Regions from separate parts of the Homo sapiens genome. Here region 2 is linked to region 1. The links come from fine-mapping of genetic effects on plasma protein levels. Region 1 holds a variant in brackets. A gene starts in the other region. All regions are shown on their forward strands.

Region 1 (2,906 bases):
AGTCCCATTGAGAACATCAATTTAAGATTATATATTAATGGATAATACCTCAATAATTAAAACAGAGGTTATTTACCAATAATTTGTATTATTAGCACAAACTTTCATTTAGGATATATTCTCCTATGTGTTGTGAAATTAACTCAAAAGGCAGAAAACAGTGCACTTATTAGAGCTTTTAAACAAATTAAAAATTAGAATTAAGTATATATGTTCCTAGTTAGTGTAAAACTTTGGAATATTTTTGCAAACAAAAAGGGTTCTTATGTCTTCTGGAAATCTTATCAAAGTGGACAACAAGAGAAGAAACTCTCAGATGAATTTCTACCTACTAGAGAACTGATTAATAGAATTTTAAAGTAAATGCTAACACACAAACAAAAAACTAACAGGGAAGCTAAAAAAAATAGTGACTTAATACACCAAACACTCTAGCTCAATCTAGTTTATAATATAATCTAACCATGGAGGGCATTGTCATTGTTCATATCGGAGATTTTTGGGAAGGCAGGGTCAAAGAATCACTGGAACTGGATGCTCGGGTTTAATCTACCTGTCACTCTTTCATTTTTCTTTAATATGAACCCTGTTTTGGTATTTAATGGAACCAACCTTCATCAACAAATAAGTCCAAGAAGTACATTAAGAGGAGCCTGGCCCGGAGGAAAGTCATAGCTGTCTGCAATCCGTGCACTTAGAGCTAGAATCCTCTGTTCTTAACAATAAGGCAAAGTGTTCACGTAGAAGGAAAGAAAACACAGGCTACATATTATCAGGGCTGGAGTTCATACTTTCCTGGATGCTGAGCTCAGGTTTTCACTTTGTCCCCCAACATCCCACAGACAGGCACCTCATTGTGCCCCTGCAAACTCCCTGTGCAGTGTGGCAAGTGGGTGAAGGTTCACTGTGTCTGGAAAGCATCTGGAGCCTCCTGCTGACAATGTTGTCACCTGCTCTTGATTCTCCTGCTTCCGTCTCATCTCCTGCAGGGGCTAGTATTTCCAGAGGAACCTCATGACTCCCTGGGACAGGTCTCCTGGAAAAGTCCCTGTAGAACAATCAACCATTGCTGAGATCTTCTCTGAGGACATACTCAGGTACTCGGCACAACTTTGACTTCAAACACTGGGCAACGTGTCACAGGGACAAGAAATTGAAGACTTACATGTCTAGTGAAGAGAGATGCAGAGATCCTAAAGAAATTGCAACAGCCAAATGTCATCATCATAATCATTTTTATATAGTTATATAATATATATTATATTATATAATTATAAGTATTAATTTTTAAAGTAGTGTATAGTAGTGGGTAACTAGTGGGAGGAGGTTTGTGTGCAGATTGTCACCTTCCAGAGTGCACTCATCATGGGGTTGACACTGACAAGCACGCATATGGACTTGCTCAGCTGGAGAGTGACAGGCATTTTTATAACCTGTGACCCCAGTAAGGCTCTCCCACTGCAAGAATGATCAGGCGCAGGCCTCTGGCTAAAGTGCAGCCAGCAAGTGGGACCAGTGCCCAATGCTGAGAGGGCTTCCTTCAGGTGCCAAACGATGTCAAAGGAAGTGATTCTTCCTGCCTGGATCCCCTGCATGTATTCTAATTTCCTGCAGAAAGGGCCTCCTCCAGAAATACCCCCAAGAGCTTA[C/T]GCTGTATTTAATCCAACTCCAGGGCATCATACATGAAATCCCTCATGTCCAAAGTCTCCACTTCTCAAAAAAGGTTGTGCATTATGGAATTCACCAGAAGCTTCTGGCCTTTTAGTGAAATGGACCTTCCTCCCACGCTTGGAGAACTTACCCTCTGGGAAGGGGCATAGAAAACCAGGAGTCAGATGAGCTCTAAGTCAATGTGCATTTTATGGATTCCTGAAGAAAGAGTGCAAAAAGGAATGGCCCCACCCACTTTCCCTCTAACTGGCATCATTCCCAGTAACCCACTTGAAGAACCCGTGGCGCTTCAAAATAATTTATGTTTGTTATACCGGGGGACCACCAGGAAAGGAAAGAACTAGTGTGTCCATGTAGGTTCATCCCACATAACGCAGTTAGGACTCTGTTTCAGGGAGCTGATCATGGGGAGGGCTGTGTATGTGTTGGGCAGGGGTACATGGGAGCTCTCTGTTTCTACTTTTTACATCTGCTGTAACCCTAAAACTGCTTTATAATAAATTTAATATAAAAAGATAGGCAGTTTCTCAGAAATTACATTTAGTCTTAGTATTGGATCAAGCAATCTTGCCCTAAATGATTTACCCATTCAATTTTAAAACGTCTGCCCCCACAAATCCTCCATGGGAATGTTTGTTTCAGCTTGATTGATTGCTGCTTTTCCCACTCTGTTAATTTTGCTTATAGGGTGAGATTTGAAAAGAATATTTCTTATATAATTAGAATGCATATATCTTTCTATTTCTTCTTTTCCTCAATTATATAACCTATTTTCTAAACAACATTAAACCCCATAAATCCTGTCATATCCTGAAAACTGGGACAGCTGCTTCCTCCCTCAGGGTTACTGACACTCTCAGGATATGAGTTTTCACACTGTGTCTCTCCCACAGTAATACATGGCCGTGTCTTCAGATCTCAGGCTGCTCAGCTCCATGTAGGCTGTGCTCGTGGATGTGTCCCTGGTCATGGTGACTCTGCCCTGGAACTTCTCTGCGTAGCTTATGCTGCCATCACTAGGGCACATCCTTCCCATCCACTCAAGCCCTTGTGCATGGGCCTGGCGCACCTAGTGCATAGAGTAACTGGTGAAGGTAGGTGTATCCACAAGTCTTGCAGGAGACTTTCACTGATGCCCCAGCCTTCTTCATCTCATCCCCAGACTGCACCAGCTGCACCTGGGACTGGGCACCTGTGGAGAGGACACGGGAGTGGATAAAACCCCCTTTGACTGG
Region 2 (2,906 bases), not on the chromosome of region 1:
ATGATGGCGGGGCGGGGAGAAATGGACAGGTTGCTCATCCTGCGGGAGATGGTGAATATCCTGCAGTTGCCTAAGCGGAGATGGAAAGAAACAGCATCCATCGTTTACAGACTGTCAACTACAGTGTCCCAATTAAGCGTACGCCCCTTTCAGATGTTAACAACTGAAAACAATGCCCTGGCTCTGGACATGGGCACGCGGAACACTGCAGCCTCTAAGAAACCCAAACGGATAGGTAGGTCAACTTCTATCCACTCTGCCCATTAAATTATACCTTCATATCACGCTAATAAATTATGCAGACGGTTTACTGGGACACGCTGTGGGTCTGGCACTCTGATAAGCGCTTTACACGCCCCATTTCACTGAACCTTAAGAGGCAGGGACGGTATTAGCAGCCCCTTTTCCAACCAAGACACAAAGACTTTTTAAGTGTCTTGCCTAACGGGGCAGAGCCGGGTTCGGCACCCGTTTTGGACACCTGGGCCGTGCTCTTAACCACTAAGCTACAGACCTGGGCCGGCGACACTGAGAGGCTCCAGCCCTCGGGGACCTGAAGCAGGGACCCCCCCCCCCCCCCGCCTGCGCCCCAGCCCCGGGAATAACTTCGGCATCCCCGCGCGCGCCATGCGGGACGAGGAAAGGCGGCCGCAGCACCTGTTTGTGGCACCGGTGAGGGCTGGAGGGGATGGGGGCGCCCGGGGCCAGGCCTCAGGGCGCCCCGAGGCGAGGGAACGCAAGAGGACCCGCCTCCTCCGGGAAGGCCCCGCGGGCTAGAGAGAGGCCCGGGAGAAGGCGGAGGGGTGCGCGGGCCCGCCGAGGCCTAGGCCCCACCCGCCGCCCACCTCCCCACCGCGGCGGCGCCCGCGAGGGCCCCACCAGGCCCGGCCCGGCCCGGCCGCCTCACCTGGCTGCTGCTCCGAGCTCGTCCCCCGGCCGGCGGTCCTGGGCGGTGGCGGCGAGGAGGGGAAGGAAGAAGGAAAAAAGGGAGAGGAAGAAGGGACGAAGGGAGGGAAGAGGCGGAGTGGCCGTGGAGGAGGCGGGCGCCGCCGGGCCGGGGGGGGGAGGCGGTCAAAGGAAGCGGGAGCCGAGAGAGACGCGGCAGCCGCCGGCGCAAACGCTGAAGAGCCGCTCAGGCGCCCGCAGCCCGGCAGGAAGTGACGGGGGAGGGGCAGGCGCCCGCCCCCGGCCCCCGCCCGCCTCCAGGCCCGGCCCCGGCCCCACCCCCACCCACGGTCCGAACCACAAGTTCCGGCTGGCACTGCGGCGGAGCCTGCGCTCGCAAGGCACGCCGGGGGCCCAGCGGGAGGAGCGCCCTGTCCCGCCTGGACCGCAGCGGCCCGTCCTGAGTCCCGGGGCCTGCCGGGAGTTGTAGTTCTGGTGGGAGTTTCGCGCTGCCTGCTGGACTCGAAGCGGGTCTGGGAGAACCCAGCCTACCTTCTTTCCTCCTCCACTTCCTTTTTCCTTCCTTGCTGTCGCTTCTTCCTCTTGTCCTGCCTCTGGCCTTCCTTTCTCTCCTTCCTGCAGTTGTTTCTTCCTCCATCTGTAAATGTTCATTAAATGCTTGCCATATGCAAGGCATTGCTCCAAGAGCTAAGAATGTAGTGGTGAACTGACAAAAATCCCTGCCCTCGTGGAGCTTACATTCTTGTGTAAGTAAAATACACAATAAATAAAATTGAAAAATGTGTAGTGAGATAAAAGACAATGGCCCGGGCGCGTTGGCTCAGGCCTCTAATCCCGGCACTTTGGGAGGCCGAGGCGGGCGGATCACTAGGTCAAGAGATCGAGACCATCCTGGCTACCACGGTGAAACCCCCGTCTCTACTGAAAATACAAAAAATTAGCCGGGCGTGGTGGCGGGCGCCTGTAGGTAAACAGCTACTCGGGAGGCTGAGGCAGGAGAATCGCTTGAACCCGGGAGGCGGAGATTGCAGTGAGCTGAGATCGCGCCGCTGCACTCCAGCCTTGGCGACAAAGAGACACTGGTCTCAAAAAAAAAAAAAAAAAAAAAAAAAAAAAAAAAAAAAAAGACGAGAAGTGCCAGATTACTATTTATTTCACCCAGACCTAGATAAACTAAGTGGTTTTTAGCAGCTGTATTGTATGGGAGGTTGGAGAGAGGGTGGCCAGTAAAGAATCTTGGCCAGGCGCAGTGGCTCACGCCTGTAATCCCGGCACTTTGGGAGGCCGAGGTGGGCGGATCACCTGAGGTCAGGAGTTCGAGACCAGCCTGACTAACATGGTGAAACCCCGTCTCTACTAGCCGGATGCAGTGGTGGGCGCCTGTAATCACAGCTACTTGGGAGGCTGAGGCAGGAGAATCTCTTGAACCCGGGAGACGGAGGTTGCAGTGAGCCGAGATCACGCCATTGCACTCCAACCTGGGCAACAGAGTGAGACTCTGTCTCAAAAAAAAAAAAAAAAAAAAAAAGAATCTTGAACTTCTGCACACTCAGCGAAAATTATGCTCGCGTTGTGAGAGGTCCAAGAAACTGAGAATGAATGAAGGAACTGCAGGTGCACAGAGCTTCTCTCTCCCGCTCACTCTGGGACTGCCGCCCCACTATTTAAAAATAATTCTCTCTTTCTTAAATGTCTCTCAATCTAATAATTGCTCAATCTCTCTTGCCAACGGAATATAAATTCAAAATACGAGCTGCTGTGTCTGAAGAGGCCCCTCCAAACAAGGCTTTGGAGCCTTAGCGAAGCCTGGGAGGACACTTGCCTCCTTACATTGCTTCTTGTGAAGTGCAATGACACTGAATTTCAGAACACCAAAAATAGTCAAAGGACTTTCACCGTCCCTTTAGTGCCCATCCAAGACAGTAGTAAGCAACATTCAGATATTGTCCAGCCCTCTGCTAAAAGTGATCTTTTCTTTCTAACTTCCAAGCAGTGTGGAT

Which allele goes with the higher level. Alleles are on the strand shown, and positions count from the first base shown. The strength of an association depends on the size of the effect and on how common the allele is.
For the plasma level of the protein whose gene starts at base 1,126 in region 2, T is the high allele of the variant in region 1 and C is the other (strong association).

Evidence for each region. PIP is the posterior inclusion probability: the model's chance that the variant is causal. Protein levels are from antibody-based Olink assays in UK Biobank. Linkage for the fine-mapping came from a reference panel and not from the study's own genotypes, which makes the PIPs less certain.
Region 2: it holds the start of STAU1, and the variant in region 1 is fine-mapped to the plasma level of the STAU1 protein (UK Biobank, PIP above 0.99).

Annotation. Positions count from the first base shown.
Region 1 is chr14:106,678,051-106,680,956 of GRCh38, forward strand. It overlaps IGH and the pseudogene IGHV1-67. Among named protein-coding and RNA genes, the nearest start is that of MIR5195, 170 kb to the right of the region's middle. The variant C/T (reference allele first, on the strand shown) is at 1,650.
Region 2 is chr20:49,187,209-49,190,114 of GRCh38, forward strand. STAU1 (staufen double-stranded RNA binding protein 1) reads right to left here and starts at 1,126. Exons shown (of 14, transcript NM_017453.4): 1 at 908-1,126. RefSeq lists silencers at 340-499, 730-1,399.